Linked DNA regions of Homo sapiens: region 2 is linked to region 1. A link means that fine-mapping ties the variant in region 1 to the expression of a gene that starts in the linked region. Tissue or cell type: whole blood. Region 1 holds a variant in brackets; the other region holds the start of a gene. All regions are shown on one strand. Distances are between the middles of the regions.

Region 1 (5,000 bases):
CTGTCTCAAAAAATAAAAAATAAAATAAAATAAAAATAAAAAGCAAAGAAAAAGAGAATCATCAAATACCTAGGAATAAATCTCACAGAAGACATGCAAGACCTTTACACAGAAAACTACAAAACATTAAAGAAGACCTAAATAATTGGAAAGATATTACCTGTTTTTAGATTGGAAGATTAAAAATTATAAATTATAAAATTACAAAGAGATCTAGTCTTCCAAGATTGATCTATATATTTGATATAATCACAATCAAAATCCCAGTACATTTTTGAGGGGTAGAAATTAACAAGCAGAATATCTGTAGAAATGTAAAGGACCTATAATAGCCAAAATTATTTTGAAAAGAAAGAATAAAGTTGGAGGCTTTGCACTATCTGATTTCAAGTCGCACCTGTCAAGTTACAGTAATCAAGACAGTAAGATATTATCATAAGGATAAACATTTAGACCAATGGAACACAGTAGAGAGTCCAAAATTTGTCACTCTTAATAGGTCAATGGATATGTGTACACCAAAGCAATTCAATAGCAAAAGGAAAATCTTTATAACAAACAGTGCTCAAATAGCTGGCCACATGGCACAATGAATCATAACCCATACCTCACACTGCATATTCAAAATGAATTGAAAATCACCGGGCGTGGTGGATCATGCCTGTAATTCCAGCACTTTAGGAGGCCGAGGCTCAGGTGGATCAACTGAGGTCAGGAGTTTGAGACCAGACTGGCCAACATGGTGAAACACTGTCTCTACTAAAAACACAAAAAAATTAGCTGGGCCTGGTGGCACACGCCTGTAATCCCAGCTACTTGGGAGGCTGAGGCAAGAGAATGGCATGAACCCAGGAGGCAGAGGCTGCAGTGAGCCAAGATCGTGCCACTGCACTCCAGCCTGGGTGACAAAGCAAGACTCCATCTCAAGAAATTAAAATTAGGCCAGGCACGGTGGCTCATGGCTGTAATCCCAGCACTTTGGGAGAACAAGGGGGGGTGGATCGCCTGAGGTCAGGAGTTCGAGACCGCCTGGCCAACATAGTGAAACCCCGTCTCTACTAAAAATACAAAAATGAGCTGGGTGTGGTGGTGGGCGCCTGTAATCTCAGCTACTTGGGAGGCTGAGGCAGGAGAATCGCTTGAACCTGGGAGGCGGAGGTTGCAATGAGCCGAGATCCGCCATTGCACTCCAGCCTGAGCAACAAGAGCGAAACTCCATCTCAAAAAAAAAAAAAAAAAAAAAAAGAAACACTTTGGGAGGCCGAGACCGGGGGATCATGAGGTCAGGAGATCGAGACCATCCTGGCTAACATGGTGAAACCCCGTCTCTACTAAAAATACAAAAAATTAGCTGGGCGTGGTGGGCACCTGTAGTCCCAGCTACTAGGGAGGCTGAGGCAGGAGAATGGCTTGAACCCAGGAGGTGGAGCTTGCAGTGAGCCGAGATTGCGCCAGTGCACTCCAGCCTGGGCGACAGAGCAAGACTCCGTCTCAAAAAAAAAAAAAAAAGAAAAAGAAATTAAAATTAAAATGAAGAAAATGAATTGAAAATAGATCATAGCCAGGTAGGGTGGCTCATGCCTGTAATCCCAGCACTTTGGGAGGCCAAGGAGGGTAGATCACTTGAGGTCAGGAGTTTGAGACCAGCCTGGCCAAAAGAGTGAAACCCCATCTCTACTAAAAATACAGAAATTAGCCAGGCGTTGTGGCGGGCACCTGTAATTGCAGCTACTCAGGAGGCTGAGGCAGGAGAATCACGAACCTGGGAGGCGGAGGTTGCAATGAGCCAAGATCGTGCCACTGCACACCAGCCTGGGCAACAGAGCAAGACTCTGTCTCAAAAGAAAAAGAAAAAGAAAAAGAAAATGGATTATAGATACAACTGCAAGAGCTTAAACTGTAACACCTCTAGAAAAATAAATAGAATATCTTCATGACCTTGGGGTAGGCAAAGTTTTCTTTAACAGGACACAAAAAGCCTTAACCATAGACATAAAAGACTGTTATGTTGAGCTTGTAACATTTGAACCATTAAGAGTCAAAGGCAAACTA[T/C]AGACTAGGAAAAGATACTGACAAAAGGTATAATCAACAATGGGTTTGTCTCCAGCAACAGTTCCTACAAATTACTGAAAAACAGATAATCTGATCTTTCAAAGAGGTGGCAGGAAAGAATCAGAGACCTGAATAGGCACTTTACAAAAGAAGATATGCAGATGGCTGATAAATACAGAAAATGCCGCTCAACATCATTCCTCACCAGGTAATACCAGTTACACTCCCCATGCGCAATTACCATGCCTGGACTAACAGGGTGAAAGTAAAAAAGACTAACAATTCTGAGCTGTCACAGTGGTTTGTGCCCAGACTGATCTATATATTCGATGCAATCACAATCAAAATCCCAGTATGTTTTTCAGGGGTAGAAATGTAAAGGACCTATAATCACCCAAATGATTCTGAAAAAAAAGAATAAAGGTGGAGGCCTTGCACTATCTGATTTCCAGTCTCACCTGTTAGATTACAGTAATCAGTCCAGTGAGATATTATCATAAGGACAAACATAGACCAATGGAACAGAGAGTCCAAAGTTTATCATACTTAATAGGTCAATTGATACGTGTACACAAAAGCAGCTCTCAGCTACTCCAGAGGATTGCCTGAGCCCAGTTCAAGGCCAGCCTGGACAACATTAGCAGGACCCCTTTTCTTTAAAAAAAAAAAAATAATAAATAGAGAGAGAGAGAGATAAAATGACTAACGACTCTGTGGCAAAGATGTAGTACAACTGGAACTTTCATACACAGTGCTGCTGGGAGTGTACATTGGTTTAGTCACCTTAGAAAACCGTTTGGCAGTATTTACTAAAGTGTTTTAAACATACAATATGTCTTCCCTGTAACTAAGCAATTCTCATGCCCAACAGAAATGGGGACTTAGGTCAAAAGTCCTCAAAAGACGGCTGGGCGTGGTGGCTCACATCTGTAATCCTAGCACTTTGGGAGGCCGAAGCGGGCAGATCACTTGAGGTCAGGAGTTCAAGAGCAGCCTGGCCAACATGGCGAAACCCCATCTCTACTAAATTACAAAAATTAGCCAGGCGTGGTGGCGGGCACCTGTATCCCCAGCTACTCAGGAGGCTGAGGCAGGAGAATCACTTGAACCTGGGAGGCGGAGGTTGCTGTGAGCTAAGATCACGTCACTGCACTCCAGCCTGGGTGACACAGCAAGACTCTGTCTCAAAAAAAAAAAAAAAAGTCTTCTAAAGACCTGTGTAAGAATGTTCATGGAAGCCAGACATGGTGCTGCACACTTGTAATCCCAGCTACTTGGGAGGCTGAAGTGGAAGGATGGCTTGAGGCCAGGAGTTCAACCAGCCTGGGCAGCATAGCGAGAACACCCCCCTGCTTTAAAAAAAAAAAAAAAAAAAAAAGGCTGGGTGTGGTGGCTCACTCCTGTAATTCCAGCACTTTGGGAGGCCGAGGCGGGCGGATCATGAGGTCTGGAGATCGAGACCATCCTGGCTAACACAGTGAAACCCCGTCTCTACTAAAAAATACAAAATTAGCTGGGCGTGGTGGTGTATGACTGTAATCCCAGCTACTAGGGAGGCTGAGGCAGGAGAATGGCATGAACCCGGGAGGCGGAGGTTGCAGTGAGCTGAGATCGTGCCACTGCACTCCAGCCTGGGCAACAGAGCAAGACTCCATCTCAAAAAAAAAAAAAAAGTAACCGGTTGCAGTGGCTCACGCCTGTAATCCCAACATTTTGGAAGGCCAAGGTGGGCGGATCACCTGAGGTCAGGAGTTTGAGACCAACCTGGCCAACATAATGAAACCCCGTTTCTACTAAAAATGCAAAAAATTAGCCAGGCATGCTGGCCCATGCTTGTAATCCCAGCTACTCAGGAAGCTGAGGCAGGAGAATCGCTTGAACCAGGAGGCAGAGGTTGCAGTGAGCCGAGATCTTGCCATTACACTCCAGCTTGGTCAACAAGAGCAAAACTCCATCTCAAAAAAAAACCAACAAAAAACTGTTCATGGCAGCTTTATTCATAATAGCCAAAAACTTGAAATAATCCAAATGACCATCAACAGTAGATACATACATTATGATATAATCATGTAATGAAATAAGACACAGCAATGAAAATAACTGCTTCTCCACTCAACAACGTAGAGAGCTCTCTAAAGAACAGGGGCACAAAAGAATACACAATGCATAATTGCATTTCTGTGAAGTTCAAGAATAGGCAGGCCAGCATAGGCTGGGCTCAGTGGCTCACACCTGTAATCCCAGTTCTATGGGAGGCCAAGGTGGGTGGATCACCTGAGGTCAGGAGTTCAAGACCAGCCTGGCCAACATGGTGAAACCCCGTCTCTGCTAAAATACAAAAATTAGCTGGACGTGGTGGTGGGCGTCTGTAATCCCAGCTACTTGGGAGGCTGAAGCAGGAGAATCCCATAAGCCTGAGTGGTAGAGGTTGCAGTGAGTTGAGATCATGTCACTGCACTCCAGCCTGGGCGACAGAGTGAGACTTCGTCTCAAAAAAAAGAATAGGCCAGGACGGGTGCGGTGGCTCACGCCTGTAATCCCAGCACTTTGGAGGCCGAGGCGGGCGGATCACCTGAGGTCAGGAGTTCCAGACCAGCTTCAACAAGGAGAAACCCCATCTCTACTAAAAATACAAAATTAGCTGGGCGTGGTGGTGTATGACTGTAATCCCAGCTACTCGGGAGGCTGAGGCAGGAGAATTGCTTGAACCTGGTAGGCAGAGGTTGCAGTGAGCTGAGATCGTGCCATTGCACTCCAGCCTGGGCAACAAGAGTGAAACTCTGTCTCGAAAAAAAAAAAAAAGAATACGCCAGAATAATCTATGGTGATAGAAGTCAGAATGGTGGTTAGTTCTGGGGTGGGAGATAATTGATGGGTGTGGGGCAAGAAGGAGCCTTCCGGAGTGTTTAAAAAAATGTTTTTTGCCAGGCACGGTGGCTCACGCCTGT
Region 2 (5,193 bases), 230 kb after region 1:
ATGACATTCTTCGGGTGGGAACTGTTGTCGCCTGCTCTATCTTGCCAGCTTCTCTGTACCAAAGTTCTTTTGGAAACTTTGAGCCTCTCTGACCTTTTGACCCTTATGTGCATGTGGGAGTCCTGGTCTGTGATCCCTTGACTTGATTCAGGGGGCCCCTTAGCTCCATCTGTGTTCCCTGGAGTCAGCACTGTGCCACCCCCCCGCCCAATTCTTTTCTGTCATGGGCAGAACTGCAGAGGCTGCATCCTTGGGGAGCTCAGAAGCTCTCCAAGGCGCTGAGTGGAGGTGCCACCTGTATCTTTTGTTTCCGCTTCTGGAGACCCTTTTGTCCCTTGCTTTTTGGGCCTGATCCCATTGTCCTTCGCAGAAGTGAGACACCTCAGCTCTTCACTGTGTTGCCAGAGAAGAGAACAGCCACTGTTGGAGGGGCCATGATGGGATCAACCCACATTTATGACATGTCCACGGTGAGTACTTGGAGGATACTGCTTTTGGAGGCTGAGAAAGGCAGCAGAAGCTAGGGCTTCTCTGACTCTTTGGAGATGACCAGGCCCTGATCTCCTTTCCAGGTTATGAGCCGGAAGGGCCCGGCTCCTGAGCTGCAAGGTGTGGAAGTGGCGCTGGCGCCTGAAGAGTTGGAGCTGGATCCTATGGCCATGACCCAGAAGTATGAGGAGCATGTGCGGGAGCAGCAGGCTCAAGTAGAGAAGGAGGACTTCAGTGACATGGTGGCTGAGCACGCTGCCAAACAGAAGGTAGGCGCTTCCAGGGGCGCTGGGCTGGGTGAGAGCCAGGGACCCTGGCCTGCCGTTTTCAGTGGCATGGTGCCCTCTAGTGGTGAGAGTGAGGGTGGCCTCTGCTTGCTGCTCTGTGCTTCCTTAGATTTGGAAGTCTTAGAAATCCTCCAGTGGGCTGCCCTCTTTAAGGACGATGAGGGGGAGGAACTCAGCCAAGTCTGAGAGGGAGCTCGAAGAGAATTCAGATTCAGCGCCTTTCCCACAGACTTCTATGTCTATGTCAGGCTGCCCACCCTTGTTTTGGGGGTCCGGGGGTGGTTCAACCTGTCTTAACCTGTGTCTCTTTCTCCCTATACAGCAAAAAAAACGGAAAGCTCAGCCCCAGGACAGCCGTGGGGGCAGCAAGAAATATAAGGAGTTCAAGTTTTAGGTCCCCTCACACTAGCCCTTTTTTTGGCCCTACGTCTGGATGCCTGGGCTTCACACAAGAACCACCTCTCCCGCAGTTCCCAAGGACTTGTCATTTCATGTTCTTATTTTAGACCTGTTTTGTAAATAAAGCTGTTTCCCAAGGAAAGAGATGAATATTTAACACTCCTGAGCCTCCCTCATCTCCTTTTAGCCCCTTCTTGCAAAAGGACTAAAATAGTCTCTTTCTACAATCACTGGGCTGCCCCAGTAACCACGAACATAAACTGGGATTAGACGGCGCATTTGACTGGTGGTGACGCCAACCCCAGGCTGAAATCTGTGTTTCACCACTGCCCTGCTTTGTAGGAAGGCTTGGGGGAAGTACCTCTAGGTCTGGTTTGACCTTACTACTTTGTCCTTGGGGAGTAAAAATAGCCAGATTAGCGCCCTAGCGCGGCAGAGGAAGTAACAGTGGGCTTGGGAAGTAGGCCAGGGCAGGCCTTCCCAACTGACCTTGTGACCAGAAGTTCAAGTCCTTACCTGTGCGACAACATAGCTCAAAAGCTAAATTGTCTTGAGTCCATATGAACCCTTGGGTTCAAGCAACACTAGTCGCTGGGGTTTGGGATTTGTATGTGGGATGGGGGGACTTACTTTCTCCAGGTTGTAATCTGGTCCTGAGCAGCCTTTCTGACAGACTAGAGCAGGCTGGATCACTGGCTCCCATGGGCATTTGCCAGCCTGTGGGGAGGGTAGTCATGCGCTGCTGTTGTACTACTGTTGGTGTTTAAGTGCACCAGTGGAGGCGCTCACTTGCCGGAGGGTTCAAGATGGTCTCGGGGTTGTGGGGGGCATGATCCAGATAGGACGTGGCAGCTGAGCTAGGCCTTAGGAGGAATGGAATTTTAGAAATTTGGTAAGCAACAAAGCACTGGCACTCTAAAGAGGCATTTGGGGGGTAGGGAAAGAAGAGGAAGGTTGGCTCCAGATGGGCCCCGGGGTAGCTTGAGAATTCACTTATGCGAAGAACCTTCTGGACTCCAGGTCCCTGAGCCCCCGCTTGCCCTCGGGGCGGGAACTTCCCGGATCACAGGCACCCGCGGTGGCAGCGGGCCCCGGGTCTCCGCCGACCTCTCTGTTTGCCGGGGCCGCAGGGCAGGGCTAGGTCGGCAGGCGGAGAGCCGGCTTCCCCGGGCAGACCCCCACCGCTGGGGGCGGGTTCCGCATTGGCTCCGAAGACCCGAGGGGCCGAGGCGCGCTCCCGCGGCGGCCCCCTCCCTGCAGGGACCGAATCCCGGAAAAGCCGGGTTTCCGCTGGCGGGGCCGCGGCCGGCCGTGGGCGGGGAGGGGAGGAGCGGGGGCAGACTGGCAGCGGATTTGAGGGCAGGACCCGTGGGCGCGCGCTGGCCACAGACCACCCCTTCTACTCCGCGGGAGCGAGGGGCGCGCGTGGCTGCACGCAGGGCGCGAGCGCGCCCGGCCCGGCCCCTCCGCGCTGGGTGGGGCCGCGCGGGCCGGGCTCCCCGCCCCCTCCCGGACACGCCCACCCGTGTCGGCCTCGCGAGCCGCAACAGGCAGCGGCGGTCGAGCGCGAGGCCCGCGCGCCCAGAGGCCCCGCGCGTGCGTGCAGCTCGCTGGCTGCTCGCGCTCGGGCAGGCGGGCTGAGGAGGCTGCCGCGCCCCCGCCGCCGCCGCCGCGGGGGAAGCCTGGGAGCCAGATCGGCGTCGCCTCGGCCTCCGTAACCCCCGCCTAGCCGGGCCATGGCGGAACGCGGAGGGGCGGGCGGTGGTCCCGGAGGCGCCGGGGGCGGCAGCGGCCAGCGGGGATCCGGGGTCGCCCAGTCCCCTCAGCAGCCGCCGCCGCAGCAGCAGCAGCAGCAGCCGCCGCAGCAGCCGACGCCCCCCAAGCTGGCCCAGGCCACCTCGTCGTCCTCGTCCACCTCGGCGGCGGCTGCCTCCTCCTCGTCCTCGTCTACCTCCACCTCCATGGCCGTGGCGGTGGCCTCGGGCTCCGCGCCTCCCGGTGGCCCGGGGCCAGGCCGCACCCCCGCCCCGGTGCAGATGAACCTGTACGCCACCTGGGAGGTGGACCGGAGCTCGTCCAGCTGCGTGCCTAGGTGAGCGCGGGAGGGTGCGGCGGGGCGCCGGGGGAGCGGGGTGGCCGCCGGGGCCCAGCCCTCCCCGCCCCAGCGCCCATGGGGTCCCCGCCCTCCATCTCCCCGACTGTCCCGCGGCCCGGCCTGGCTCCAGCCAGGCCTCCCGGGACTCCTGCCACGGGGACCCGCCCTCTCCTGGCAGCCCCACCTTCTGCCTGGGGCCGGGACCACCCTTCTGTCCTCCCCGAGGGACCTTCTGGCCTCGGCCCCGGGCTTTCTCCGATTGGGCTGACCGAATCCGGCCTTCCTGGCAGTCAGTTTCCCTGAGTAAGTCACTCTCCTGCCTCGCCGGCGCCGGGAGCTGTACATACATGGATGTGGTATAGATCTCTTGATATTATTATTTCCCAATAGACTCAGCATGTGCCAAACTCGATTGTCACCTCTTGCAGGTAAAGCTCATATAATCACCCTAGGGGCTTCTCATTAGCCTTCGGCACACATGTTCATTTGAACTTCATATTACACACGTTCTGTCCCAAGCGCTAGGCTCTTAGTTTTGGGGCCCTATTTAATGTGTCCTCAAGTGTATTTTTACCTCCCCTCCCCCACTAAAACTGGTCCCAGAATCTCCCAGCTCTGCAGGGCTGTATGAAATTACTGCCTTGTTCCTAAATTCAATCCATTGCTCTCTGTCTGTTGGAACCATCTGGGGACTTTCCTTCCATTGGCAAAATAGGCCTGAGTTTGGGAATATTTTCTGTTTTTGTATTGGCAAGGCAGTCTGTCTCCAACTCTGGGGACAGGGTGCTGTGTCTTACAGTTTGCCACTTGAATAAGACGGTGTGTGGAGCTGGTTTCACCCAGAAAGCCCAGAGAAGTGCCTGGAGGTGTTCTTTTTTGTCACCTTGTAGCTGAGTTGATTCTGTTGCCTTGAAGTCTTGGGCTGTCTCCTCACTGTTGGTTAGGCAGACGGATGTGTAAGTCAGAGTTAGAGAGGATTGCTGGGCTCCCCCCTCGACTGTCTTCCTTTCCCCACCTTTATTCTGGATAATATTGTTTTATATATATATCCCAGATAGGAATGATGAGAGTACATCTTTCTGTTTCGCTCAGCTTAAGGAACAGAGCATTATCGCTTCTGTTGAAGCTCTCAGGGTGCCCCTTCCTGACTGTCTCCCCTCTTCCTTCTACAAAGGTAAACACTATTTTGAATTGTGTTTATCATTTCCCTTGTTAGAAAAAAATTAGTTTTACTACATAATGCATCTCTATATATTTTATAGTTCTGAATGTTCTTGAAGTTTGTGTACATGGTGTCATCCTGTATGTGTTCTGTGACTTGATTGGTTTTTTTATTTTTTTTTAAATCAGCATTAGGTTTGTGAGAATCATCCATGTGGTATGGTAGCCATAGTTTAAATATTTTCATGATGGGTAGTATTCTGTTGTGTGAATGAATATACCGTAATTCTCTTGAATATGTAGGTTGTTTCCTGTTTAACACCCACAGTAATGCACACATTTCCCCCCAGGACTCCTAGTGCTCTTGTGCAGAAGTTTCTTTAGGTTGTATTCATATGGAGGGGTGGGATTGCCGCTCGCAGGGTATAGATCTGGGACTTCACTAGGCAAAAGTAGATTGTTTCCACAGGCTGCTTCCACTCTGTGTTTCCACATCACTTAACAGATTTACACATTGTTTTTTTTTTCTCTGTCCTTTCTCTAGGGAAATCAGGAGCCACATTAATTTAGTTTGCTGTGGCCAGATCCATAGCACAACACCAAGCTCAAGCGAGAGTTGAGTATGTGATGGTGTTCCTCTCTTGATCCTAAGCAGGCCTCTCTCTTTCTATACAGGCCCATCTATCGCTGAAGTATCCTAACCCACCTCTTTCACACATAGAAACACTGTGTTCCTTCCTACGTGGGTCCAGTCTTTCCCAT

The links. PIP is the estimated chance that this variant, and not a neighbour inherited with it, causes the effect.
Region 2: PACS1 starts here. The variant in region 1 is fine-mapped to the expression of PACS1 in whole blood (TOPMed, PIP above 0.99).

What each region holds. Positions count from the first base shown.
Region 1 is chr11:65,841,728-65,846,727 of GRCh38, forward strand. All of the region lies in intron 1 of SNX32 (sorting nexin 32), which reads left to right. Among named protein-coding and RNA genes, the nearest start is that of SNX32, 10 kb to the left of the region's middle. The variant T/C (reference allele first, on the strand shown) is at 2,053.
Region 2 is chr11:66,067,576-66,072,768 of GRCh38, forward strand. PACS1 (phosphofurin acidic cluster sorting protein 1) reads left to right here and starts at 2,697. Exons shown (of 24, transcript NM_018026.4): 1 at 2,697-3,267. The coding sequence starts at 2,912. It overlaps SF3B2 (splicing factor 3b subunit 2), which reads left to right. Exons shown (of 22, transcript NM_006842.3): 20 at 371-470; 21 at 573-758; 22 at 1,099-1,733. The coding sequence ends at 1,170. RefSeq lists an enhancer at 550-709 and silencers at 800-849, 2,257-2,876, 2,887-2,936, 3,087-3,216, 3,227-3,376 and 1 more.